Linked DNA regions of Homo sapiens. The protein of the gene in region 2 purifies or fractionates together with the protein of the main gene of each other region. This does not show direct contact. Each region holds a gene or a part of one and is shown on either strand. Other genes may lie near its edges. The genes, in order: ID4, METTL2A, MCCC1 and NDUFAF7.

Evidence for each region.
Region 1: the proteins of METTL2A (region 2) and ID4 purify together in Homo sapiens (affinity purification with mass spectrometry; 2 studies listed by BioGRID and IntAct, with this or other methods). This does not show direct contact.
Region 3: the proteins of METTL2A (region 2) and MCCC1 purify together in Homo sapiens (affinity purification with mass spectrometry; 2 studies listed by BioGRID and IntAct, with this or other methods). This does not show direct contact.
Region 4: the proteins of METTL2A (region 2) and NDUFAF7 purify together in Homo sapiens (affinity purification with mass spectrometry; 2 studies listed by BioGRID and IntAct, with this or other methods). This does not show direct contact.

The regions. Positions count from the first base shown.
Region 1 is NC_000006.12:19,833,068-19,840,371, reverse strand, and holds the start of ID4 (DNA-binding protein inhibitor ID-4), read right to left. Parts: upstream 3,003-7,304; 5' UTR 2,618-3,002; coding exon 2,177-2,617; intron 1,789-2,176; coding exon 1,744-1,788; 3' UTR 1,730-1,743; intron 1,163-1,729; 3' UTR 1-1,162. UniProt on the Homo sapiens protein: Transcriptional regulator (lacking a basic DNA binding domain) which negatively regulates the basic helix-loop-helix (bHLH) transcription factors by forming heterodimers and inhibiting their DNA binding and transcriptional activity.
Region 2 is NC_000017.11:62,419,116-62,426,897, reverse strand, and holds the start of METTL2A (tRNA N(3)-cytidine methyltransferase METTL2A), read right to left. Parts: upstream 3,002-7,782; 5' UTR 2,996-3,001; coding exon 2,886-2,995; intron 2,680-2,885; coding exon 2,588-2,679; intron 600-2,587; coding exon 244-599; intron 1-243.
Region 3 is NC_000003.12:183,089,484-183,096,514, reverse strand, and holds part of MCCC1 (methylcrotonoyl-CoA carboxylase subunit alpha, mitochondrial isoform 1 precursor), read left to right. Parts: intron 1-1,906; exon of another isoform or gene 1,907-1,909; coding exon 1,910-1,956; intron 1,957-3,969; coding exon 3,970-4,106; intron 4,107-5,557; exon of another isoform or gene 5,558-5,579; intron 5,580-7,031.
Region 4 is NC_000002.12:37,241,658-37,248,657, reverse strand, and holds part of NDUFAF7 (protein arginine methyltransferase NDUFAF7, mitochondrial), read right to left. Parts: coding exon 6,867-7,000; exon of another isoform or gene 6,234-6,866; intron 6,024-6,233; coding exon 5,965-6,023; intron 4,796-5,964; coding exon 4,685-4,795; intron 2,607-4,684; coding exon 2,463-2,606; intron 1,203-2,462; coding exon 1,029-1,202; intron 524-1,028; coding exon 308-523; 3' UTR 1-307. UniProt on the Homo sapiens protein: Arginine methyltransferase involved in the assembly or stability of mitochondrial NADH:ubiquinone oxidoreductase complex (complex I).

The DNA.
Region 1 (7,304 bases), on a different chromosome or scaffold from region 2:
TTTCCATGATTTAAATAATCTGTACAGACATGAAACTTAGTGACATTAAGCTTTAGTGTAAAATGAAGAGTAATAAGCAATTTTTTTTCACTTTGATAAAACAGCAGATTTCGTAAACTCCTTAAGGATCCAAGCATTTCCTCATCCCATATGCAAAATCATTCAGAATCCATTTTGACCTCAGTTGAAAAACAAAAACAAACACTTACTCTGTATATATTACACTATAAAACCCTGTACTTAAAAACTGATAAGGTGTATTTTCAACATGTATGCTTCAAATACAAAGATTTCAATCTACATTTAAAAAAACACATTTGAATGGACTCAGAACAAGTTTAATTTGTGATTAAACATCTCATGCAATCATGCAAGACCACTAGCTATAACTGTTACTTCCGAGTCTATACTGGGCAAAACAAAAGCAAATTAAGAGCCAGGCCAAACAGAAAAGACATTCAAGATATCAAGAGCTCTGTAATTGAGCTGAAAAATGATTTTCCAAAAGAAATATTCCCATAGATTAAAAAAAAACACACACATAATATTTACAAAAAAATATTTAATTAAAAATATCTTATAATTACAGTATCTATTAAAGCATATACTTTCTCACACTTATAGAACATCTCTATATATACATGGTATGAAATGTCACTCATTTATCTATACAATATGTAACATTCTTGCAGAGAAAAGAAAGTTCTCTGCCCCGTTATAATCATCTATTTTAAACAATAGATGTAAAAAAAAAATATCTACAATGCTCTGGTAGATTAGTAAAGCTTCAAAACAAAAATTGAGCTCCTTGGTCACAAAGTAGGCTTCTAAAGTCGGATCTACTCTTGATCTTCTATTTATCAGTCCTGTCACACTTAAGCTTAAAAGTTTAACTGCACCTCCAAAAAACACAGAAATGTACAATTCACAGCAGTTATAAATGAAGAGACAAAAGAGAATACGTATGTAGAATGTTTATGAACGTGCAAAGAAAGAATGAAAGTTGTATTTTTCTTTCCTCTCTCTCTCTTGGAATGACGAATGAAAACGTTTCTAGGTTGGCCGATGTTTTTTCCTTTCCTCCGGTGGCTTTTTTTCTCTAACTTCTGCTCTTCCCCCTCCCTCTCTAGTGCTCCTGGCTCGGGCTCAGGCGGCCGCACACCTGTGGAAGAGGAATGAATAGAGGGGGTGTGTGAACCTTCTCGCTGCAGACTAACTGGCGCCACCGACCAAACTCAAGACATGCTTGATCAACAACCCAAAACAAACCACCAGGTCAGACAACACCCGCCCGCGGCCGGGCCAGGCGCCGAGCAGGCAGCTGCGGCCCTCGGGAAGCCCGGAGAGGGGACCCACTCCGGCGCCCTGCCCGCGTCCCCCTTTGTGGGTGACAGACTGCACGGGAGGACACCGGGGCAGCTCCCATGCCCACGAGGGTGCCCTCCCTCGGGAACTAGGGAAGGCAGAAGAGCCCGCTGACCACCAGAAAAAACACGGGGACGGCGGGGACAAGGGCTGACCCGTCTCCACCGAGACTGAACCTCGAGTTCTAAGGCTAAGTACGGGTTTACTTGCTACTTAGGTGGCAGGGAGAGAGGGGATTTACTTCCTTGGGAGTTTGCTCTCAGAAACGCTGGGGGCAAAGAACACCGCGGTGCCTGGCCCCGGAAGCCCTCGGGGACGGGCGTCTCTGGTGACCGGCCACCCGAGACGGGAAATGCGCGCTCACCTGGACAGCGCGGCTCAGCGGCACAGAATGCTGTCGCCCTGCTTGTTCACCGCGCCGGCCTGGAACAGCAACCGAACACCAAGGGAAAGGTTAGCAGGCGCAAACAACGCGCTCGACACGGTCCTGGATTGTCCTCGGAAATCAGGCTGGCGCGCCGACGCCCCCACCCCAGCCTGTAGCCGGGGGGGCCCCTCCGGGCTCAGGCGGGACTTGACAGCCCAGGGCGCCCACAGCCCCGAGTCCCGCCCTGCGCGTTCTCCCGGACCCGCGCTCGCCGAGCCCGGCCGGCTGCTGGCGGCCCGGGGGAGCCCGGAGGAGCAGGGGGAGGGGGCTGTCATTCCTGGCCCGCCCCTGCCCGGAGGACGGTGAGCGCCCGCGTCCCGCCACCACGCCACCAACCTCCCATCCCCCGCGGCGTCCGCCCACGGCCGGCGCCCGGCCTCTCACCGGGTCGGTGTTGAGCGCAGTGAGCGGGGTCCGCGGCGGCGCGGCTGGACAGGTCCCGGCCGGGTGGTGTGGCGGCGCGGGCGGTGGTGGCTGCCTCAGCAGGGCCGGGTGCGTCTCCAGCGCCAGCTGCAGGTCCAGGATGTAGTCGATAACGTGCTGCAGGATCTCCACTTTGCTGACTTTCTTGTTGGGCGGGATGGTGGGCACCAGCCTCCGCAGGCGGCTATAGCAGTCGTTCATATCGCACTGCAGGCACAGCGCCGGCTCGTCGGCCGCCGCCTCGGCCGCCTTACAGCGCGCTGCCGCCGCCGCCGCCGCCGCGGCTGCGGAGCCACCCAGGCTGTGGCCGTGCTCGGCCAGGCAGCGCAGCGCCAGCTCCCCGCCGCCGCAGCCCGACGGCGCCTTGCGGCCCGAGGGGCGCACCGGGCTCACCGCCTTCATCGCGCGCGCCCTGCGCTCTACGCGAGCGAACCCGCTGGGGCGAGCGAGGGAGGCAGGCAAGCTCCGGGCCCCGTCCGCGGCCGGCTCCGCTCCCTTTGCCTCCGCGCCCGGCGCGCTCGGGGCACCGCGACACTCCCGAGCCCAACAATTGACGGGAGGGTCGCTCTGGGTTTTACGAGGGAATCTTTGCTCAGTGGGCGACACTCAGCCCGAGCCCAAAGGAAAAAAAAAGCAAAAGCACCGGAAGAAAAGTAGCCCACCCGGGTGTCCTAGTCACTCCCTTCGGAGCTCCGACTAAGCCCGATCGCGGCCGCCGCGCTCCCCTAGCCCGGGATCACCCCACTCCCGGTACTACTCACAACCGCGCCTCCTCCACTACGCTCTCGCCCGGCCCGCCGCGCAGCTGTATTTATAGAGCCGTGCGCCCCGGGGGCGGGACCAGCGCGCGGGCCGGGTCGCAGCGCGAGCCGAGCGGAGCCCGCTGGGCGCGCGGGCGGGGGCGCGGAGGGAGAGGCGAGGGCGGGGGCTCCGGGCGGTGCTGGGGGGCGGGGAGTCCGGCTACCCGAGTGGAGGAGTGGGCGGGGGGTCTGGAGTGGCCAGCCAATCAGGCGGGCAGTGCCACCTCGGGGAATGACGCTCGGGCCAATGGGAAGGGCACTCCATTCCGTCAACGCTGTGGGTCGGGGTTCTGAGAAAAGAGAGCTGAGTGGGAGTCGGGCCAGGCTGATGTGTGCCCAAGGGAGGGGAAAAGAGAGAGCGAAGTTCCTGCGAAGAACTGCGGGAATGTGCGGCCGGAATTCACTCTCCACCGCCCCCCTTATCCCGACTAGGCTGCTGAGGGAGCGCCTGGGCCCTGCTCGCGGATACCCTGCCACTCCTAATAGCACGGCGCCCAGGGACCCTCCGCCACCCATCACTCCATCCGTGGGATTCCAGTGCCTTAAGAAAGACGCGCTGTTCAAGAAGGCACGTTCATTCTGTTCTATATTTCCCTCCTCCGTTTCATTATTCGCCTTTTCACATTTGCCGAAACCATAATGATGGAATGGAATGTGTAGCCTTTCCGTTTTCTTTTTAAAAAATGCTAAAGCTTAGCAAAAGTAGAAAAAAAAAGAAGGAAAAGAATGCCGAATCGAATGCAGGTTTTTGGTGAAGGGAATATAAATAAAACAAAAACGTGGGGGGGGTTCTTTTACCCCATCTAAATGCAAAAGTGGGCTCAAGAAATGCAGTTGCCTTGCGCATTCAATTAGAGCACGTAAAGATTAAAAATGCATGGACACGGAATATTTAAAATTCCATTATGACATATAATATTAATCTGTTTTATGTAAAATTCATACCTGTAACTTAATTTAGGCCATTAATGCACAGCTTCACGTATTAGTCAGCGTACCCCGCTTTAAATAAGGTGATGAGAATGTCCAGAGTCGCCTCCTTTGACAGCAAAGCATTAAAATTCACACTTCCAGTCTCTGGGATCCCGCTTGGGCCCCACCCTGCAAAAAAAAGCCTGTTAATTAAGGGCGTTTTTGTGTTAGATTTCTTAGAGAAAAGCTGTCCTTCAAGGGTTCAAAATAAAATTGCACAATGAGCTTTGGTGGAGCATTGTGTGTACCCTTCAAGAAAAAATTGAGCCCTTCAGATGAGAAAGGTGCATAAAAATTCTCAGACAATGGGGAAATGAATTTTGAGTGCCTTCACTCTACAAACCCTCCCACCTTTAGACACGCTTGGAGATGAATTAACCCAAGAATTTTCTTCATTCGTGTACATGACATGGATTGGTGTCTTCATTTTCATAGATAATTGAAAGAAAGAGACATGGACCTCATTTCTTCCTGTCTACCCCTATATGGACTTTTTCTACATCCATTCCCAGAACTGAAATACCTGCACCAGGCAGATATTTTGTTTAGCTATGTCAGTGCTTTATGACTATCGCACTATTCCCCAGAGCACATTCCTTTCTCCTGATGAAATGAGGAGCAACTATTTAATTCTGGTTTCACAGGTAGATGCAATAACCCTCCTCTCCCCTAATCCTTGTATGTTACTGCTTCTAATAATTGTTTGGAAACAAGTGCCATTCTCATTTATTTATGTGCATACGTAGATGGTCTACATACACATTAATCGAGAAAATCAGAATTATGAAACTCAGAAGGGCTTTCTTCTAAAGACAGGCATAGTCATATACATCATTAAATTAATGCAAATACAGAGAAAATGTTGTAATTTTAAATGGGAAGTCGGTGAAGCCAGCACTACTGGTTGTAAGCTATTATCTTGGAGCCAGTCATATGAGCACAGACGATAATAATAAATGGATATATGTACAGATGTTTTGTTCCATTGATCTTTCTCTTTCCTAGAGTTTAAAATTTGCTTCCAAATTCAAAACCCAAGACTTTCCTCTGTTTGGCAAAATAAAACTATGCTAATATGCCCAGGACACACTTACATTTAAACATTTTACATATCCTAACGATTAAAATTAAAATTTAAGTTTTGAATACGTAACACAAAGGAAGAATCATATCGACCTTTTTGGAATTTGCTAAATCTCAGAAAGCCATGCCTTGGGTGTGACAAGCGCCAAATGCCTAAGTTTCAGGTTTTGTTGGAGATGCTCTGTGTGACTGGCTTAAAGTTAGAAAGACTGAGTTACTCTGTGTGGGGTGGGGTGGAAGAGGTGGTTTCAAAGGAATGTACCTCAGCCACAAGATCAAGAATACCCAGGAAAGATGTGATCCGTAAATCCTGCTAGCAGAGTAGGCAGAGGCAGTTACTGTGCTCCTTGTTTTGAAGGTTGGAAGGCATGAAGACATTAAAAAATTAAAGTGCTACCATATACTATGGGAATAAGGAATACAATCCTGCACGTTTTGGTCCATGAAACCAGAGAGTACTAGGGGCTATGCAATGTATGTTTTTGTATTCTTAGACATAGACACTTACATGACATCAAAGCTGCAATCATGGAAGATTCCTGGCACTGATAATTCAAAACAGTTTACCCAATTATCACTCAGATTTTGGATAAACCTTACAAGCTATGTTATTTCTACTGTGCAGAGAAGGTAACTTAGTCTGTTGGTGACTCTTTTACATCAAAGTGTTTCACTTGCACTTGTAAAAGTAAAATGGGCTAACCCAAATCCTTTTGTCATGGAAATGCTCGAGACTCCCAAAATATACCTCAGTAGGAACCTAGAATGAAACATTCATAGGAGAATTGCTAGAAAGCCGTGATGACCAGAGTCATGGATACACCCTTCCTCCAGACAAAGAGGTCTGCTGTCCTCCCTGAGATGTATTCTAGCTACTAAATCAGGCCCTCACTGAACTGCAACACCCAGGCCTTTAGAAGTCATAGTCACCCTGTGTTTACATGAAGCAAGGGTATGGAAGCATATTGTGCTCTTCATTCCCAGTGCCTTTTTAGGACTTGATACTTGTTTCTCCATAGCCTCCAGGGAAACAGTGAGTGTACTCATACACAGATAAACGTGAATGTTCCAATGCCTTGGTCACTCTGTAGATTTGTCGTCACAGAAAGAGGCACATGCATTCTTTGAGGGCATAAGAAACCACTATGTACTCTGCAGCAGGACTGTCCCTTGCTCCCAAAGAGTAAGTTGGGCAATGTGGCAATTCAAGCTCAAGGCTGCTTTATCAGGCACTAAGTGTTACAAAATTACTTGTGCTACCCTTGGATTGCTGATACTAGTCCCGGAAATGCTGATAACCCCTTAGTTTGCTAGGTCCTGGAAAAGGCTTGTAGGAAGAGGACGTTGTACGTTGAACATGGCTGGGCAGATGTGGCTGTCAAAAATGCCTTGTTTGGGGAGTTTTAAAGGTAGTTGGTTTAAATAAGAAGTGACTTTTTGAAAGCCCCCCTTAGATTAAAAGACAGAAAAATGGGGAGAAATAAGTGGAATTTGTTTTTACCTTAGGAGATATAAACAGCATGGACTCTGAAGTGAGACAGCCTAAGCCCCAATTTTGGCCTCTTTGCTTATTAGTTTTATATCATTCAGCTGGGTTCTTAAATTCCTATACCTTTCATATTTGGAATGATTAAAATTGCATTTACTTCATAAGGTGTTTATGAGATACACATATTATATATATGGTCTCTGTAAAAGAAATTCAGTAAAGTTCTTAGAACAGTGGTTGGCACATAAGTGGGCAAACCATGTTACAATGTATTACCATTTTTGGCAAATATCTCTCAGTCTGTGGACTGACTTTTCATTTACTTCACAATCTTCTTTTAGAGCAGAAGTTTTGATTTTTTTTTTTTTTGAGACAGAATTTCACTCTTGTTGCCCAGGCTGGAGTGCAATAGCATGATCTTGTCTCACTGCAACCTCCGCCTTCCAGGTTCAAGCAATTCTCCTGCCTCAGCCTCCCAAGTAGCTGGGATTACAGGCGCCCACCACCACACCTGGCTAGTTATGTATTTTTAGTAGATATGGTGTTTCACCATGTTGTTCAGTCTGGTCTTGAACTCCTGACCTCAGGTGATCTGCCCACCTTGGCCTCCCAAAGTGCTGGGATTACAGGTGTGAGCCACCATGCCCACCCTAAATTTTGTTGGTGTCTAGTTTATCAGTTTGTTCCTTTATGGCTCATATTTTTGATATTGGATCTATCTAAGAAATCTTTCATAGCTCAGGTA
Region 2 (7,782 bases):
AATTTTTGGAAGTGACATGCTATTCTCGTGTGATCTTTGTCCGTCATGACTACCAGATATCTGGTCTGCATTGAGGGCATTTTATCAGTTCAAAAATGGAGGTGATTCCAGGCTAATATAAGGGTCAAGTCTAGTCAGCATCATCCAATAGAAGTTACTTTTGTTGTCAGCCTCTCTATGCTACCTCATGTGCACAAATATAATAGCTTCACATATCCCACTACCAAGACAATAAAAGGTTACCTCCAGTATTCGGTAGGTGGCTGAGGATCCAGGAAACTCATCAGCACAAATTTCCAGGTCACTAATTTTCTGAGTTACATTCTCCTCCACAGGAAGTGTCTGTGTTTTATGTTCAAGGCTCTTTGAAGAACACTTGTGCTGTTCTTCCATTATTAAACCAGGTCCATCCTCATTGTTTCTACATTCAGGTACTTCACTCTTGTTCTCCAAGAACCAGTCCTTCAAATGATTTTGATTTTGGCTAGGTGCCAGCTCAGGGAATTCGGTAAAAAGCCAATGTCTATCCTTGAAAAACCCATTTTCGTGGATTTTGTAGAAGTCATTCCAGTATTTGTGGGCATTGATCTCATAATCAACTGTAAATATTTAAGAAAAAATTTTAAGAACCAGCTCTCAAATGTTTTATTTATATCTAATATCAATTATCCTGCTTTACCAAATGTCACTTTAATACTAAAAGTATCCTCAGGTAGAGCCACAGTCCCAGAACTGAAGGCATTTCTGAGGTCATTTAGTCCTGCCATCTGGCATTATACCCTAATGCCCCTATCCGTCATTATAGGAGAGTCTAAATTCTGTTTGAACAATCAACCAGAGAACTTACTATCTATCAAGTGTCCTCCTACATCTTTGGATGCCTTTTTTTTTTTTTTTGAGACAGAGTCTCGCTCTGTCACCCAGGCTGGAGTGCAGGGGCGCAATCTTGGCTCACTGCAAGCTCCACCTCCCGGGTTCATGCCATTCTCCTGCCTCATCCTACTGAGTAGCTGGGACTACAGGCGCCTGCCACCACGCCCGGCTAATTTTTTGTATTTTTTAGTACAGACGGGGTTTCACCGTGTTAGCCAGGATGGTCTCGATCTCCTGACCTCGTGATCCACCCGCCTCGGCCTCCCAAAGTGCTGGGATTACAGGCATGAGTCATCGCGCCCAGCCAGATGACTTTTAACTATTAAAAAATCCTAGAAGTAGCCAGGTGCAGTGGCTCATGCCTGTAATCCCAGCACTTTGGGAGGCTGAGGTGGGCGGATCACGAGGTCAGGAGATCGAGACCATCCTGGCCAGCACGGTGAAACCCCGTCTGTACTAAAATACAAAAAATTAGCCAGGCGTGGTGGTGCACACCTGTAGTCCCAGCTACTAGGGAGGCTGAGGCAGGGGAATCGCTTGAACCAGGGAGGAGGAGATTGCAGCGAGCTGAGATCGTGCCACTGCACTCCAGCCTGGTGACAGAGCGAGACTCCATCTCCAAAAAAAAAAAAAAAGTATGGACAGTTTAAATGAAGGCTGTTTTTAAGGTGATCATGACAGTCCCAGATTTCAGTTTACTGCTCTTGCCAATTCAGGGGGCCTTGACTAGTGTAGTAGAAAGAATAAAAACCTAACAAATTGAGCAGGACAGTGACAATGGAAGTTGGAATCCACTAAGAAGTGTGTTAACAACTCACAACTCACCTGCTGAATCAACCAAGACTCCCTAAGAAACAGGATTTTAGTTCCACTACTGCTACTACTGACTGCTTACCTCTGGGAAAAGCACTTAATGTCCTGTGGTCCAAGTGTCTTTAACTATAAAAAGAGAATATTGAACCACATGATTTTCAAAATCCCTTTCAACTATTAACTTGCTTTGATCTAGTTGCTGTCAAAATATGCAGGGTGAATGTTTTGTAACTGGAATCTTTTTGTTGTACAGAACTCTTTCAGCGGGTACTAAATTTGTAGTCCTATCTTCAATTGTCTGGAACAATCAGTCCTAGTTTTACTATCTAGGGATATTTTGCAGTGAAATCATCCACCTCTCAAGCAGGGGCCTCCTTTTCTTTGGCCAGACTTATCTCCACTCTGCTGCATCCACCTTTCCTTGACTAAAGCCCTAAATTCTCATAACCATCACACAAGTAATAGACACACAGTCACCAGTCACTAGCCCCCCTCCCAACAATATTTAGAATCTAATCACTTCAATGAAGCTTCAATGGAAAACATCTCCTCATGGAAAATGCAAATCAAGTAAAAAGTACAGGTTCTAAGATGATCGCGTGACCACACAGTTGTCATTGGCTAGCCATATCAACGTGGATCTACTAAACATAATTAAAGACAACATTACCCTCCTCCAAAGTAAAACTATATATAAAAAAACCCTCTACGACTTAAGATTTTGTTACAATGCAGCCCTTTTCTCTCCTTGCTCATCCCCTCCCTGTCCCGCTCTACTCCTGAGATCTGCATCAGGCCAGGAATAAAGGATCTGGGCGGCCGCGGTTCCCTGGCCTCTCCGGGAGGGCGCGTTCGGCAGTACGCTGGCTGTTGATACCAATGAGAGCCCATTTAAGCGCACCTTGTTTCTCCTGGCACACCCGCTGGATACTGTTCTCCTGGACTTTTCTCTCCGCCGCCGCGGCTTGCTCTTCCGACCACTCCACATTGTCCCTGAGAAAATCAAACGGGCAGCTTAGGGGCCTCACGTCCTGGCTGCGGGCAGGGTGAGTCGCTGGCCTAGGAGTTTCTCTCCCCTTGGAGAGTGCCTCGGGTAGGGCAGCTTGACTCGTGGCCGGCGGTCAGGGGCTTTTCGGAGTGCTCCGAGGCGGCGGGACAGAGGGTCAGCGACAGGCCGGGCGAAGGGGCAGAGTGATTACCAGGCATTGTGGTGGAAGACGCGCGCCGGATCTCTCAGGAACCGGCTTCCGAACTGCTGCCTCTTATCGGCGAGGACTGCAGGTGCACCTTCAGGGTAGGAGCCGGCCATGACACCGGAGCCGGAAACACTTTACTTTCCGTAACGTGAGAACTTCCTGCGGACCACGCCCTCTTTCAGAAGACGCGGAGTCTGGGCGGGAAAAAGGGTGGCGGGACAGGGCGGCACTGGAGTCTGGTCCGGGTGGCGCTCGGGAGCTGTCGTTTGGGGCTGTCCCAGGGTTGGCGAAGGGCTCTCTAGGAGAGGGGACCAGGCAGGGGGAAATTCTCCCCGGAGGAGTCGTTTCTCATTGATGAGGTGCTGATGGACGTGCAGGTTAGGCAGAAAGTGGGAGACATTCCACTTGAGACCCAGTTCAATGCTGGGATCCTCTTAACAGGTTCCCCAGCTTCCCTCAAGTTATAAAACAGGAAAAATCTTGAATCATTATAAGAGTTGAGGCTACCTAGTTCCACTGCGGAGCCGATGTCCAGAACTGAAGAAGGTAGCAAGCAGCGGGAAGAAACAGGGCAATTTCCAGCTTCTATATTCAGCTCTTAATAGTGTGGGTGTATATGTATACACAGTGTGTATATATATTTTGGTTGGGGTAGGGGGAGATGGAGATATGAAATTAGAGAACACGAGGCTTAGCAAATCAAATGGAATATCCAAGGACAATTTTTTTTTAAATTATAACCATCTAACCTTTTTGAATCATGCATATTTATTATAATTATCCTTATTAGCACAATTAAGATTGTAATACACACATACAAACAGTTTGTCATAGTAATACATTTCAGCCTTACATTTCTATTTCTAGATCTAACACAAATAGACTCTCAAAAGAATCTAGAAGAAAGTATGTTATAGACATAAGGTTATTTGAGAAGACTTCCAAGAGAAGCATGATGAATACCACTTGGAAAAGAAGGAAAGGGCAGAGACCAAACAAGGACCAGCCCAATACCTCTTGGACTTTATTTAATGTCATAATGTCAGAATAAAGGGAAAGATGAATTTTTTTAAAAAAGGAAAGGGTTAGTGCAGTGCTAGACATAGCACATGGGTAATTAGTACTTTTTTTTTTTTTTGAGACGGAGTCTTGCTCTGTTTCCCAGGCTAGAGTGCAGTAGCCGGATCTCAGCTCGTTATAACCTCCATGTTCTGGGCTCAGGTGGTTCTCCTGCCTCAGCCTCCTGAGTAGCCGGGATTACAGGTGCGCGCTACCACACTCAGCTAATTTTTGTATTTTTAGTAGAGATGGGGTTTCACCATGTTGCCTGGGCTGGTCCCAAACTCCTGACCTCAAATGATCTGCCCGCCTCGGTCTCCCAAAGTGTTGGGATTACAGGCGTGAGCCACCGCGCCCAGCCAGTAATTGTTTATTCCATTGTAAATTCTTTCTGTAGGTAAAACTACGGGGAGCAATGAATGATTCTATACTTTTTCCTCCAAAGAAATGGGAACAAGCTCTAAGCCTCTCTAATCAGGAAGAAAAATACACAAGTTAATAAAAAAAATAGTAAATAAGTTGTACTTCATTTGAAGACAATATGCTTTTGCCATTCTTGTGGTCTTCGGAAACATTTTGAACACAAGCTCCATACCCAGAAACAAGTACAAGGAATTTTTATCTTTTCTCAAGGCCAGCTGTTTGCAGATATGGTGGTTGATTTACATTTATTTCTGGCATCTTGTTTTCTCATCTATGGGCTTTTATTCTCCCCTCACTAAAAGCTGTTAGTGTTCCCAATCAACAGTCCCACTGCATATTTTCTTGCAGACAGCTCATTGTCTTCACTCTAATTTACTATATTAGTTCCAGTGGAGACATTTTAAATGTCAAACAGCTTTGGCCTTTTTTCTGTGAAATGTGCTAAAGTATCCTAAACTTAACTTTATTTTTTATTTTTATTTATTTATTTTTGAGACGGAGTCTCGCACTGTCTACCAGGCTGGAGTGTAGTGGCGTGATCTCGGCTCACTGCAAGCTCCCTATTTCACGGGTTCACGCCATTCTCCTGCCTCAGCCTCCCGAGTAGCTGGGACTACAGGCGCCCGCCACCATGCCCGGCTAATTTTTTGTGTTTTTAGTAGAGACAGGGTTTCACCGTGTTAGCCAGGATGGTCTCGATCTCCTGACCTCATGATCCACCCACCTCGGCCTCCCAAAGTGCTGGGATTACAGGAGTGAGCCACCGCCCCTGGCCTAAACTTAATTTTATACAATTATATTTGATTGGCCTGTAAAACCTATTTTTCGAAGCACCTAAAATAATTTTTCATAAGTTTGACATGGCTGTGAGTTCTCTGGTGTCAGACTTTATACTGGATTGTAGCTTCAGAAACGCCACGTTTCAGAGGAACTAAGGGTCCCTCTGGTGGTAAGTAAGGAGAACTCTTCTAGCTCAGTGGGTGGCATGGGTTTAACGCTTGTAAAGGTTAAAAACTCTCATTCTGGATTATTGCTTTAGGTTGTTAGCCAAGGACAAGGGTAGTTAATTGTGTTTTTTTGTTTTTTGTTTTTTTTTTGAGACGAAGCTCTGTCGCCCAGGCTGGAGTGCAGTGGCATGATCTCGGTTCACTGCAAGCTCCACCTCCCGGGCTCAAGCCAGTCTCCTGCTTCAGCCTCCTGAGTAGCTGAGATTACAGGCCATCGCCACCACACCCAGCTAATTTTTGCATTTTAGTAGAGACGGGTTTCACAATGTTGGCCAGGCTGATATTGAACTCCTGACCTCAAATGATCCGTCTGCCTCAGCCTCCCAAAGTGCTGGGATTACAGGCGTTAGCCACCGCACCCGGCCTTTCTTCTCCTTTTTTTCTTTGAGATAGGGCATCACTCTGTCACGCAGGCTGGAGTACAGTGGCACGATCACAGCTCACTGCAACCTCTGCCTCCCAGGCTCAAGTGATTCTCCCACATCAGCCAACAGAGAAGCTGGGACTAGAGGTTTGTGCCACCATACCCCAATAATTTTTGCATTTTTTGTGGAGACAGTGTTTTGCCATGATGCCCAGGCTGGCCTCGAACTCCTGGTCTTGAGCAATCCGTCTGCCTCGGCCTCCCCCAAGTGCTGGGATTACAGACATGAGCCACTGCACCTGGCCTGTGTTTTCTTATTGCAAAATAGATTTTTTATTATAGAACATTTAGAAGATATCGATAAAACAAAAGAAAATACTTCTTCCCACCATTAATTTGACTCATTAACGCTTTGGCTTATATCATCCCAGTTCTTTCTTTCTAATTTAGTTATGTAAGTGACTTTACATTAAAATAGTTTCAGAACAAAATGCTTTGTGCTTTTTTTTTTAAACAATTACATTCATCTGGCTGGGCGCAGTGGCTCACACCTGTAATCCCAGCACTTTGGGAGACCAAGGTGGGTGGATCACGAGGTCAGGAGTTTGAGACCAGCCAGACCAAGATGGTGAAACCCCCGTCTCTACTAAAAATACAAAAATTAGGCTGGGTGTGGTGGCTCACGTCTGTAATCCCAGCACTTTGGGAGGCCGAGGTGGGCGGATCACGAGGTCAGGAGATCGAGACCATCCTGGCCAACATGGTGAAACCCCATCTCTACTAAAATACAAAAAATTAGCCAGGGGTGGTGGTACACGCCTGTAGTCCCAGCTACTTAGGAGGCTGAGGCAGGAGAATCACTTGAACCTGGGTGTTGGAGGTTGTAGTGAGCCGAGATTGTGTCACTGCACTTCAGCTTGGGCGACAGAGCGAGACTCCTTCTCACACACAAAAAAAATAAATAATAAATAAATAAATAATAAATAAATAAAATTAGCCGGGCACAGTGGTGGGTGCCTGTAATCCCAGCTACTCGGGAGGCTGAGACAGGAGAATCGCTTGAACTCAGGAGGCGGAGGTTGCAGTGGGCTGAGATCGTGCCACTGCAGGCCAGCCTGGCAACAGAGCAAGACTCCGTCTCAAACAACAACAACAACAACAACAAGAAAACCCAATTACATTCATCCATTTTAAGTGTACAGTTCAATACATTTTCATAAAAATCTGTATTTGTGTAATCAGTGTCACAATCTAGTTTTAGAACAACGCCTTGAAGTTCTCCCATGCCACTTAGCAGTTGTAGTCTGCTTTTTAACTTAATAATAACTTGGGGACATTATTCTTTTGTTCGAAATATTCTTTTACAACATCACTTAATGTCCTTCTGGTATTGTTTCGTATAGCTATATCATGCTTTATTGGACATTTAGGTCACTTTAAGTTTCATACTATTAAAAATTTAACGGCTGGGTGCAGTGGCTCACACCTGTAATCCCAGCACTTTGGGAGGCCGAGGCAGGTGGATCACGACGTCAGGAGTTCAAGACCATCCTGGTCAGCATGATGAAACCCCGTCTCTACTAAAAATACAAAAATTAGCCAGGTATGGTGGTACGCACCTGTAGTCCCAGGTACTCGGGAGGGTGAGGCAGAAGAATGGCTTGAACCCTAGAGGCGGAGGTTGCAGTGAGCTGAGATCACGCCACTGCACTCCAGCCTGGGTGACAGAGTGAGACTCTGTCTCAAAAAAAAAAAGAAAGAAAAAAAAACAGAAAAAAATTCAACATGGTGTACATCTTTGTAATGAAATAATTTTGTACATTCATGATTATTTCTTTATGATTAATTTCTAGGAGAGGAATTGCTGAGTCAATGGTTATAATTAGCTCCATCACTAAGCTCTGTGAGGTTAAGTCATTTTACTTGTTTGTTAACTGTTATATGTCCAGGTCCTAGAACTAGGTCTGGCAAACAGTATGCAACTCAGTAGATAATTGATGAATGAATGGATGGGTGAGTACCCTCTTGCTATACCATATTTCAGCAC
Region 3 (7,031 bases), on a different chromosome or scaffold from region 2:
CATAGTTTCTAATGCACACGCTGTGCTTTTATCTTGTGCTTTGTGAATAATCTAAAATGGTTAGTTAGTCCTTTATAACCACATCTTCCAGGTATAGACAAAAAGATAGGTGGAATTGCTTCTGTAATTTGTTTGTTTCCCTGCATATGCTTTTTATTTATTTATTTATTTTTTTTTTTGAGATGGAGTCTCACTCTGTCACCCAGGCTGGAATGTAGTGGCACGATCTTGGCTCACTGCAACCTCCACCTCCCAAGTTCAAGTGATACTCCTGCCTCAGCCTCCCAAGTAGCTGAGATTACAGGTGCGCACCACCACACCTGGCTAATTTTTGTATTGTTAGTAGAGATGGGGTTTCACCATGTTGGCCAGGCTGGTCTCGAACTCCTGACCTCAGGTAATCCCCCCACCTCAGCCTCTCAAATTGCTAGGATTACAGGCGTGAGCCACTGCACCCAGCCCACTTATCCTCTTTAGCTGAAACTTAATAGACGTTATACTTTTTTGTTCCTAAAGTGAATCTGGCCTGTTTTCTGTCAGCTCTTGGTTACTTTATTTTATACACAGGTATCACGAAACTTAAAAATTGTTGAGACTTCTACCTCATTAAAATACCTCAAGTCATTTTGTCTCCCCATTTCTCCATTTTTTTAAATACAAGGACTTGGAATAGAATTGTATAGTACTTTTAAATCTGAGAGGTACCTTCAAGATCACCTCTTATAGTCTCATCTCGTGTGTGAGAACACTGAAGCCCAAGCTATTAAATCTTGCATCCTCAACTGGGATGATACCACCGCTAAAGGGTGGAAATTGATTCTTAGGAGAGCCAGGAAATCTTAGATTTTGTCATGGTTTACGGCTTTCCAAAGCTCAACCTTACCCCACCCTTCCTACAAGGAATAAAATCTTTTAAAAGTTTTCTCATTAGGAGAGTAATAATGAAAAAAAAGTTGGAGAAACACTGATGTAAAGTGACTCGACCCTGGGCAAGCTGGTCATTGGAGGGACTCGGATGAGAATGCAGCTTTTCTGGTCCCACAGCCAACATTCTTTCTGTTGCCCCTGTTTAACTTCCGTTTATTTCTCTGGTCTTACTTTTTAAACATGTCTCATGTTTAAACTTGATTGGTATTTTTCAAACTGTAGATTGACCAGCATATTTTAATAAAATAGGATACAACTGAAAGAACCAAAAGAGTTTTGTTCTTTTTGTTTTTGTTTTTTTTTTTGAGACGGAGTCTCGCTCTGTCACCCAGGCTGGAGTGCAGTGGCCCAGTCTCGGCTCACTGCAAGCTCTGCCTCCTGGGTTCACGCCATTCTCCTGCCTCAGCCTCCCGAGTAGCTGGGACTACAGGTGCCCGCCATGACGCCCGGCTAATTTTTTGTGTTTTCAGTAGAGACAGGGTTTCACCGTGTTAGCCAGGATGGCCTCAATCTCCTGACCTCATGATCTGCTTGCCTCGGCTTCCCAAAGTGCTGGGATTACAGGTGTGAGCCACCGTGCCTGGCCAGGGCAGAATGAGTCATTTTTAACAAAACATCTGTTTTCATTAAGTGTGTGTCCTGGGTAGTTTGTATTGTGAGTTGTAGCCAAAAAGGTTTCAAAAAAGCTAAACTAGATGATGTTGGTATACCTTGGTTGTTTAATCATCTCTGACTGTGGTCTTATGCCAGCCTCAGGAACAAGCAGGCTAGGTGACTCATTCAAGGACAGGTAGTACGAGGGAAAACAGCCAGAACTCTAACTCTTGAGTTCTAGATTAGTTTTCTACCCACTAAGAAAGTCTTACTAAAGCACTGTTAGTTGGCTTAAGGTTTCATGTTTTAAGAAACTGAAATTCTTTTGAAAGAACAATTGTGTTGCCTATTCTGTTTAATTGTAATTCCTTTTGGATTTATGTTATAGGACATGGGTGTGGAGGCAAAGAACCATGAAGTACACAACAGCCACAGGTACTGACAGACTTTGTTGTTCTATTTGATTTTGCTTCAGACTGGAAGTGTTTAAGAAAGGGAAATGTTTAATCCCTTAATATATGCATAATAGAATTAGTTATCATAAATTTTGGATTTTCACGATAATTTTCTAGGAAGTGTTAAGTCATGGTTTTCACCTCTTTTGTATCAAATCTCTCTTGCTGTTAAGTCTAAAATACAGAGGGCAGCCGGGCGCAGTGGCTCATGCCTGTATCCCAGCACTTTGGGAGGCTGAGGTGGGTGGATCACCTGAGGTCAGGAGTTCGAGACCAGCCTGGACAACATGGCAAAACCCTGTGTCTACTAAAAAATACAAAAATTAGCTGGGCGTGGTGGCGGGTGCCTGTAATCCCAGATGCTTGGGAGGCTGAGGCAGGAGAATTGCTTGAACCCAGGAGGCGCAGGTTGCAATGAGCCAAGATCTCGCCACTGCACTCCAGCCTGGGCGACAGAGCAAGACTTCGTCTCAAAAAAAAAAAAAAAAAAGTAAAAATAAATAAATAAAATACAGAGGGCAATAATGGAGAACATTTTATATTCGTTTGTTCTTTCTGTCCATTTGACCCTCTTAGTGTATTGGATTGGAAAATCATAACTACGATGGTCTAAAGCAGTTCTTTGAAAAAGCTATTTTAAGTAGCAAAACCTTTTTTTCCAAATAAAATTTAACATGGAATTCCCAACTATGAAACATATAAAAGTGTAATAAAGTATAACTTCTAGCTGATTGGATATAGCCCTCTACCTACTGTGCTCTCCTTCCCCTGCCCACACTCATACATATGTCATCCATCAGCCCCTGTGACAACTCTTGGGCTCCATAGAGCCCCATCGAAAAACACTTTTAAATTAGGTGCAACCTTTTTTTTTTTAAAAGGAGAAATAACTTTATTATGTTGAGCCTATGGATTCTATTGAAGAAATAACTTTATTATGAACTGTCAAAGAACATTTATTTCACGTGTGATATTAGAAGTACATTTTATATATGCAGTAGCTTGTCATTATGGTGCCATGCCAGTAGACTGGTACAAGAGTCACTTGTGTTGCAAGAGAACCACACACACCTATGTACATAGGGATAGAGGCAGAGGAGCAGAGTGACTGAAAGCTTAAATTCTGGAGTGACGCAGATCTAGGTTGAAGTCCCAGATTGTTTCTTTAGCTGTGTAATTTTGGGAAAATAATAGCTCTTTCAGCATTAGTTTCTTCATCTTTAAAATTGAGATAACAATGATAGTATCTATTTCATTAGGATTATTGTGAAAATTTAAGTCGATGTTGAGTCTTTAGCACAGGACCTGAGGCACAGAAAGTGCTTATTAAAGATTAGTTAGTATTGGCCGGGTGTGGTGGCTCACACCTGTAATCCCAGCACTTCGGGAGGCCAAGGCAGGTGGATCACCTGAGGTCAGGAGTTCGAGACCAGCCTGGCCAATGTGGTGAAACCCCGTCTCTACTAAAAATACAAAAATTAGCCAGGCGTGGTGGCAGGCACCTGTAATTTCAGCTACTCAGGAGGCTGAAGCAGTAGAATTGCTTGACCCTGGGAGGTAGAGGTTGTAGTGAGCCGAGATCACACCATTGCACTCCAACCTGGGGGACGAGAGCAAAACACTGTCTCAAAAATAAATAAATAAGTAAATAAATAAATACATAAAAGAGTAGTTATTAATGATGATAATTTAACACTATTATAATTTGATCCTTGGCATAACAAAGCATCTTTTAATTTTATTTTATGTTGCTTTGTATTTTAAGTTTAAAAAGCTGAGTAATTTATGTTAATGAGTACCTTGAATTTAAGAGAAAAGAAGTGCACTGTCTAATATTAGTTAAAGTGGTCATTTTGGGCTCAGTTATGCTAGTTTTACCAAAAACCTTGAACTTATCAGTCGAGTCCTTATCAGCCAGTTAAGATCGTATTCTCATTCTCATTCTTTGCTCTCCAGTAACATTTCTGTGTGATTTTCATGGTGTTTTAAACAGGAAGAAACATTACCAAGGTCCTCATTGCAAACAGAGGAGAAATTGCCTGCAGGGTGATGCGCACAGCCAAAAAACTGGGTGTACAGACTGTGGCGGTTTATAGTGAGGCTGACAGAAATTCCATGCATGTAGATATGGTATGTGTTAAAAATTGGAAGCCACGTCTTACGTTTATTCGTTTACTGTGTCAGTATTTTCGTTCTTTATGATGACAGTTGATATTTGCTAGTGTTATCAGGGTTGAAGTAGGTAAGTTCAAACTGCTCACTGCTAATTCTTGGGAACATTTTTCAGATATAACATCAGTTGAACTAAGCGGTGTGCTTAGTAGAACAGTTGATTTACAGGCAAGGTCTTTATCTCCTTGAGGATTGGTTAAAACGGTTCACAGAATGTTGCGGATCCACTGACTACACTTTGAGTAGCTCATGTCCAGATTCCGTATATACAAGGAGAAAGATCCAGGCTCTATTCTTTTTTTTTCTTTTTTTTTTGAGATTGAGTCTCGCTCTGTTGCCCAGGCTGGAGAGCAGTGGCACAATCCCGACTCACTGCAAGCTCCGCCTCTCAGGTTCAAGCGATTCTCCTGCCTCGATTCTCCTGCCTCGACGTCTAGAGTAGCTGGAACTATAGGTGCCCTCCACCACGACCGGCTAATTTTTTGTATTTTTAGTAGAGACAGGTTTTCACCGTGTTAGCCAGGATGGTCTCAATCTGCTGACCTCGTGATCCGCCCACCTTGGCCTCCCAAAGTGCCAAACAGGCGTGAGCCACCGTGCCTAGCCAATCCAGGCTCTATTCTTAGCACCTGCTACTTACTGGCTGAGTGATCTTAGCCAAGTCACTTCATGTTTCTGAGCCTTGCTTCATCTGTAAAATTATAACTAATAAGACCCAACTCCCTGAAGTTTGTGAATGTTACGGGTGAGTTATTACTAGTTTTTTTTGTTTTGTTTTGTTTTGTTTTGTTTTTGTTTTTGACAAGAGTCTCACTCTGTTGCCCAGGCTGGAGTGTAGTGGCGTGTTCTTGGCTCACTGCAACCTCCACCTTCCAGGTTCAAGTGATTCTCATGCCTCAGCCTCCTGAGTAGCTGGATTACAGACACACACCACCACGCCTGGCTACTTTTTTGTATTTTTAGTAGAGACAGGATTTCACCATGTTGGCCAAAATGGTCTCGAACTCCTGGCCTCAAGTGATCCACCCACCTTGGCCTCCCAAAGTGCTGGGATTACAGGCGTGAGCCACTGCGCCCAGCCTATCACTAGCTTTTATCCACCAGAAATAACTCCAAGCATAGGTGACTCCCACTGTTGGACTTCATTATGCCTGCAGTAAGACTCCAAGCACTAGCATCAATTCATGATGAGCAGCCTCACCTGGGCTTTTATCACTGTACAGCAGGCCCTTGTGGCTCTCTAGCCACTGTTTTTCTCACTCTGTGCAATGAGTATTTCAAACTTGTTTCGCTTCATTCCAACCTCCAATTCTCCCTCTACCCACCTTTTTGCAGCAGGATGATCTTGATTTCACAGAGAAAATAAAATTGAGGTTCCTGCCACAGAATCTGCTGACTTAGTTATGTCTGCATCCATCTTTCCCATCGAAGGTCAGTGCTCTGGATCCCTTCTCTTCTTGTCTTTTTAAGAATTTTCCCGGCTGGGCGCAGTGGCTCACACCTGTAATTCCAGCACTTTGGGAAGCCGAGGCAGATGAATCACCTGAGGTCAGGGTTCGAGACCAGCCTGACCAACATGGAGAAATCCCGTCTCTATTAAAAATACAAAATTAGCTGGGCGTGGTGTCACATGCCTGTAATCCCAGCTACTCGGGAGGCTGAGGCAGGAGAATCGCTTGAACCCGGGAGGCGGAGGTTGCAGTGAGCTGAGATCGTGCCATTGCACTCCAGCCTGGGCAACAAGAGCGAAACTCTGTCTCAAAGAAAAAAAAAAAAAGAATTTTCCCAAAATAAGAGAGTAAATTTTAAATGTCTTACCATGAAAAAATATTAGGTAAGTGAGATGATGCCTAGGTTAATTGGCTTGATTCAATCATTCCACATTGTGTGCATGTGGCAAAACATCACATTGTACCCCATAAATGCATACAATTATGATTTGTCAGTTAACAGTATTAATAAAACATAAAGCAAAATGAGACATTCCTGTGTCAAAAAGAAAAGGATCTTCTATTTTTCAATGATGGGTCTTCAACCACTCTCTACTAGACTGATACTATCCATGTCCCTAAATCCAGTGGAGTCTCCAGGGCTGAGCTGACTTGACCCCTCAGCAGCATTTAGCATCCTAGTACACTGCTCCCTTCTTTTAGAAATAAATTCTTCTCATGGCATTCTCAGCCTCTTGCCTTCTTGTCTTCTCTCAGTGTCCTTTATCTGGACCCTACCCATCTACCAGACCCTACCCATCTACCAGACCCTTATGTTGAAGTTTCTTGGGACTTGGTCCTTGGCCCTCTTTTCTCAGTGTGCACTCTCATTCTGGATCATTTTATATACTCCTATAGCTTTGAGAAAAACTCCCAAATTTCTATTTTTAGTCCAGACTTTCTTTTGAGCATGATACATATATATCCAACTGCCCATTCAACATCTCCACTTCAATATTGTCACAGGTACCAAACTAGTGTGACTGAAATTGAACTCATGACCTTTCACCTATACTGAACCTGCATTTCTTACAGAATTCCCTAACCCCGTAGAGTACAACACCATTGCTAATAAAAACAATAATGTCAGAGATCTAGAAGTCTTTGAGCATTTTTCTCTCTTCTTTCCTACTCTAGATCCTTCCCCCCTCATCTAGTAAATGACCAAGTACTGTTAATTGTATTTCCCAAACATTTCTTTCCACTTCTTTCCACCCCCTCCCACCTATAACTTAACTCAAAGCCACAGTCACCTTTTTTTTTGAGCCAGGGTCTCACTCTGTCAGCTAGGCTGGAGTGCAGTGGCACAGTCACAGCTCACTGCAGCCTCAACCCCCCAGGCTCAAGCAATCCTCCTACCTCAGCCTCCTGAGTAGCTGGGACTACAGGCACT
Region 4 (7,000 bases), on a different chromosome or scaffold from region 2:
CAGGCATGAGCCACCACGCCCAGCCGCATGTTTACTTTTTAAAATAAAATAGAAATATGGCAACTAGCTTTGTAAGTTAAAGGAAACTCAGTTTCACAATAACTTATTAGCTTGAGCACACATTTGCACCAAAGCCAGTCACAACCCTAAAAGTTCTATAATGTTGGTTGTATTATATACAACATGGACTGTTCTTGCTGTGAAAAGATAAAATACTTTGACTTTTGTTACCTGCAGTATATGAAATGTGTTTCCTTTATTTTGATTTCTTGGGCCGACTGAAGGGTAAAATGTCCAAGCTGAAATATCACTGCCAAGCAAGTTCACTAAACCCAGCTACAACGGATGCAAAGGGTTTTGACTGACGTGCATTCCTCTGATATCTTCCACCTTGAAGTCTCTGATGAGGTAGCAAGGCAAAAAAGTTAAATCTCTCTCCCATCTTCTTTGGATTCATTAACATATCATATCCTTGAAGTAACTGCTGCCTCACTGATGGCTCATTTGATTTATCTAAAAGAACCTGAAAAGAAAAAAATTCTTAGCAAAAATAACCAGAAGACAGGATTCCTAGTTACATGCAGCAATACTAATGACTCTCAAATATTCCAATAAAACAGCACTCAAAATGTGACTTCTGATTACCTGCCTGAGAATCATAGAGTACTTATTAAAAATGTAGATTGGTGTGAAACAAACCTAAGGATTTGCATTTTTAACAAATATCCTCAGGGGGTTTGATCTACAGTAAGGTTTAGGTGTTCTCAGAAGAACAGTTAGAAAATTCATACCCATAAACGCAGTTTTCTTAACAAACAAAAACACTATTTGGAAGTCTTAATGCTACCTCCCATGGAGATGCATAAAACTTACCAGACTAGTTACTAAATCCTATACTACCTGAAAAGACTGGAATACCAAGGATTGGCTAACTACAAGAGCATTAAGGCCAGGTGAACATACTATTTAAAGTAATTTTTGAAATACTATGAAAGTACTTAATAACAGTGAAATAAAATAAACCTTACCTTCAGCCGGACATCAATACCCATATTTTTTAAAAATGTGTGTTGTTTTATTGGGCCCAGAGAGGCTACTTTTCCCTGTGCCATTCTTCGCAAATAACTGAAGTCCACATCAGCTGTTAGATCTGCTGTTCCTGGGGCAATTAAGACATCATGAAGCTTGTGGTCGCAAAACCCCTTGAACATAAAGAAATCAGATTTTTGCCCTTTTATGGTTATTAAGATTAAAGAAATGCTATCATATTAAAGTTATTTAATATTTACATTAATGCTTGAGGTGACGGAATAGAGCTCTCATTAATTCTCTAGGCAGGGAACACCTAGGCAGTGTTTTACAAAGTATATGCATCAACCATGCATCAGAATCACCTGAGATACACTACAAACTACTACACAGCCATAAAAAAAAATGAAATCACGTCCTTTTCAGCAACGTAGACATAGCTGGAGGCCATTATCCTAAGTGAATTAATGCAGGGACAAAACCAAATACCACATGTACATCTCACTTAGAGCTAAACACTGGGTACACGTGAACATACTTATGGGAACAAACACTGGTGACTACTAGAGGGGAGACAGGAGGAGGGGAACAAGGGCTGAAAATCTATCTACTGAGTACTATGCTTGCCACCTGGGTGACAGGCTCACTCGTACCCCAAACCTCAGAGTCAATGCAATATACCCATGTAACAAATAACAAACCTGCCTCATGTACCCCCTAAATCTAAAATAAAAGTTGAAATTACTTAAAAAAAAATCACCTGAGAATATATTACTGACCCTAACCAGACCTGGTCAGTCAGAATCCTGGAGGTAAGGCTAGAGAATGAGTATTTTCAACAAACTATCCAGGTTATTTTTAGATAAAGTTAGAAATTAAGAACCACAGACCTAGAAAATGACTAAGAGCATTTAGTTAAATGTTTTTCAATTAAAGTATATTGAATAGAATTGATTATATTCAAAGATCATTAAGAAAGGATGTTTAGGAACAGTGTAAAAGAATACATCTGGAAAGGGAAAAAATGTTGAAAATATGATAGAAAAAGCTAGAATGATTACAGTAGGTAGTTTAAATCTGTAAAGAAGTACCAAAATTTTTCTTGAATGAAGGGGGTTACAGATAGGTTTAAGAATGTGAAGAAAATCTTTCCATTTGTATTATTCAGCTGCTTATCTGGATTTATATAAACATAGGTTCTACAACTAAGGAAGAATGTACACAATTCAGATCCTGTTAAAGGAGGGCTGGACAGTAGACTCAGTGTTAGCAGTAAGAACTAGGGTTAAGGGGAATTACAATAACATGAATTAATGTTAACTATAAAATAATGTAATACAACAATACCAGGCACTGTAGAAATCAAAGCTCTTCAATGGGCTTCAGATCTAACACTGAAATTCTGATAAATCATGTTACTGAATTATACATACTCTGAAGGTATCTGTCTTTGTTCCATCATGACCATAATCAGCAACCAGTGCAGCACCTCCAGTTAATGCAATGCGTTGAGAAAGTTCCTCGATGATAACACCAGCATCAGGACACACTTCAACATGATCCCTTGTTTCGTCATGCTAGTAAAGGGATCATTGCAAGAGTCAAAATGCATCATTCAAAAGAATGACTTCCTTACGGTTTTTCAGGTTTTTCCTCAATGAGCATTTCTTAGTTTTAATAAAAATAAATTCTTAATATGAGTATGTTCTCTACACTCAACTTTTCACCTGACTCCCTTTTTATTATACAAAACTCCTTAGTTCTTTGATGCTATCCCACTTGATATACAAAGACATTTTAATCTCTTTTATAAAAAGGCAAATGCCCTCCCAATCCCCCCAGATGGCCTAGAGCATTATCATTTAATGTAAAATTACTTTTGTATCACAAATCATATAAACACATTCCTCTAGGTTGAAAGCATGGGAAAGGGATTTTTTTTGTCTGCCTAGAACAGTGCCAGGCACATAACAGTCAATGAAAATATTGTGCTGAAAGAACAAATGGTATAAATCCAATAACACGAAGCAGACCCTATTAGACAATTATATTATCATGCCCTCTGTTGTGCCAGAAAGTATCCCAATGATATGCCCTACATCAAGAAACGCTGGCTTATAAACTAGTGCCAATGTATTGAAACCGTTATTACCCCAAGATGTCCACTTAACTAAGGGGCCACAATAAGTGTGTACTAGCTTAAAAAGCAAAATCACACTAAGTATTAACACTTGTCAACCTGACTAGTATATATGAAATTTCACTACTTCCTGATCTGATTGAAAATGTGGTATTTCTTTCCCTTCATTATGAAAACATACATTAACTTGTACTCCTTCCTAACACCTTATTATAGAAATGCAGTAATGACCTGCCCTGATGTCTGCCTATGGTAACAGGCATAGAGTCAGATGAAGTTAAATCTCAGCTCTTCCTATGCTTACTGGTAGACAAGTTACTTAAACTTTCTGAGTTGTTTTCTTCCTTATAGATATTGTAGGTTTATTGTGAGGATTAAATATAACTAACCATTTAGCTAATAGTGCAATCAAATTACTGTGGCTTAACTATAAAAACCATGAAGTCAGCCTCATCAGGCATCAGTGGACACGCTGATCATGCTGACATTCTATCTTAGGCTACTCTTCAAGATGACATGTATTACCACGCATCTCATTCAAGTGAAAGAGAATATTCGCTCCCTCCCTTCCTAAGTGAATACTAATTAGGTCAAGAACTAAATGAACTCCCAGGGCCAGGAGGTTAGTTCTTGGTAGTTCTATGAATATGTCATTCAGGTAAACTTAGATTGCTATACTATGAAAAAACAGGTGTTCATAAGTGTTCAGTCTGACATTTAAATTTATACTTAACAAAACTTAATTCATACATTTAAGTTTAAAAGCTCTTGTGCTTTTAAAACTGATAATTTCTAAGTAAGAAGTTCTCAGTTAAGGTCCAGAAAGTAAAAATCATCTTCTGAGCTGGAAAAAAAGGATTAAAAAAAAAGAGGCAGTCTGAAGCCTGGACGTTCCTGAGAAGTACAGGGATTTTTTTGTACCTTTAAACAAGCCACAATAGACAGGCTCTTGCAATGATTCCTTGAGATCAACAGAAAGCAGTAGTAATTCTACCATTCTGGCCGAATCAAACTGAGATCTGTGTGGAAGCATGGGATAAAAGCCATGCTGTAGCCCAAAGAAGGATAATAATAGAACCTACCTAATATAGTTGCTTTGAGAATTAAATGAGAAAACAGAGTAACACAAAGTACTCAACAAACGTTAGCTGTTATTGTTAATTTACTATAGTCTGTACTACATTGCTTTCACAGATGTAAACTCTTCCTGTGGACAATACCATTACCATTTGACATGAAACTGAGATAAGCAGTGAAAGTAAGAGACTTGGCTGAGTAAGCGGTTACTTACTTTCTCTTACTACATGACGTTAAGGTCACACACTTAAGAAATGATTTTAACCCATGCTCCTGCCTCTAGCTCCTCTGCACTTTCACTGTCAATAAAAAGCACCTCGTATGCTACTAGCAACTCTTCCTGTAAAGGAACTCTAAAACTCTAAAGTAGTAACTCAGAAAATAAGACTTTGAAGATTCTGTGAGCAATAAAAGAAACTTAAAAAAGCATATTCTTACTTGTATGAAGGCTTCTGCTGGGGTGGCAGAAGGTGCCAAAACAAACCTCAGTTTATCAGAAACCTGTGGATCAATGTCAACAAATACTTCTCGCCATCCCTGTGGTGTTTTCTAAACACAAAATAACACATAAAAACAAATTTTTGCAAGTTTGTTCTCTACATTGCTTCTACCAAAAATAGCTTTTTCTCCTCTTACCATAAGTAACTAACATTTACAGAGAACTTACTATTTAAAATTACTTAAATTCATTACTTCATTGCCTTTGAACAATGAGTAGACCAATCGATGCAAAAGAAACAATAACAGAGATGACGCTGTGGAAGATAAAATCAGCAGCATGGAAAGTACCCCAAAAACGGAAATAGACTCAGGAAGAACAGCCAGAAGCTTTACTAACAAATTACTACAGGATCATGAGAGCTGCTCTTCTCCTCACAAATTACCAGTACATATACATTATCACCAAATCTTAAATCTCCTCACAGAAAGAATGAAGAAAAGTTTTATTATTTTTTTTTTGAGACAAGCTCTCGCTTTGTTGCCCAGGCTGGAGTGCAGTGGTGCAATCTCAGCTCACTGCAACCTCTGCCTCCTGGGTTCAAGTGATTCTCATGCCTCAGCCTCCCTAGTAGCTGGGAAGTACAGGCACGTGCCACCAAGCCCAGATAATTTTTCTATTTTTAGTAGACACAGGGTTTTGTCATGTTGGCCAGGCTGGTCTTGAACTCCTGACCTCAAGTGATTCACCCACCTCGCCCTCCCAAAGTGCTGAGATTACAGGTGTAAGCCACCATGCCTGGCCCAAAAAAGTTTAATCTATAATTTTTTAAAATGTGCTAAGGTTGGCTGGGTGCAGTGGCGCACACCTGTAGTCCCAGCTCCTTGGGATGCTGAGGCAGGATGAACACTTGAGCCCTGGAGTTCAAGACCAGCCTGGGCAACATAGCAATACCCTATCTCTTAAAAAAGAAAATTTTTTTTTTGCTTAAGTAAATCCTTCATTGCACCACAGCCAGTTACCATCTTACCATTTTTCATTCCCTTACTTCTTCAAATCAGAAGAATTAAGAATTCTTAATAATTATCCCAGGAGAACTAACAATTCTCATTAATATTTCATTTTTTGCTTTTGAATTATTTGTGTACCAAAATTCCAAATAATAGTTAAAAATAACCTCAACAAGTAAAATTTGTATACTGAATAAATACCATAAACATTGGCAACACAATGCCTTTTGTATTCAATTATAGACATGACTTTTTTCCCCCCTCAATACCTGAAATTTATGCACAGGAAGAACATCAAAAAATTCATGTGCAAGATAAAAGCTGTACCCTATTTAAAAAGAGGAAAACAATTAATGTTTCCACATTTCACAGGAATTAATTCTTTTGAATATTAACTGTAAAAAAAATGCCTACTTCCTCCATAATCATCACTACCACAGAATTATCTACCTCTTCATGGAAAACTTACACTGCAGAACATAGAACAATTATTACTATTCTTATTTTACACATAAATGGGGTCAGAAAATGGAAATACCTGAAATAGCAGTTAAAGCTTTTATTCATCACAAGGCTTGAAAGAAATTAGAAGTCAGAGTTGTTAGCTGGAAGGGAATTTGATTTCATAAAATCGGGCTTCTCAGCCTGAGAAGGCTGAGGCAGGAATGGCTTGAGATCCCTTACCCAAGATCGTACCCCCACTTTGGCTTTGAGTCAAGACTCAAACTAGTCAATACTAGTCAGTATTCCTGACTAGTACAGGGATTTTCCCCCACACCTTGCTTGTCTTTAGGCAAGTAAGGATTTTTTAAAAGACTCTATAACTGAACTAAACCCACCTACTAACACTGCTTCCATCAGCCCCAGCTGCCTTGGGCTGCTCCGTCATCGGTACAACCCTAGCTATAGGGAAATACTCAAAAGTACAAAGGAGATTTACATTTTGTTTGGGATTTTACAAAGCTTCATGAAATAAACTACTACTTAATGTCAGGCAACTTTATTTTCTATTAAGATGCTCTTTTCTAGAAAAAAGTAGGCTACTCTCTATGGATAAGGGACTTGGCAGCAGTAACTCAATCTATTATATTGCTGTAAAAAGTTACAGTCCCATCAATACTGTGAGGGTTGTGATCAAAATTCTTTCATTAATCCACATAAAGGTAATTACCTTTTGGAACATCGTGCAGATCTCGGTACCAGGAAATTGGAATCCCAGACTTAGTGACACCTTTCATATACACTGGGGATCCAGCATTTCGCTCTAACGGGACCTTCTCTTTAGTCAGTGTCAATGCTTGAATC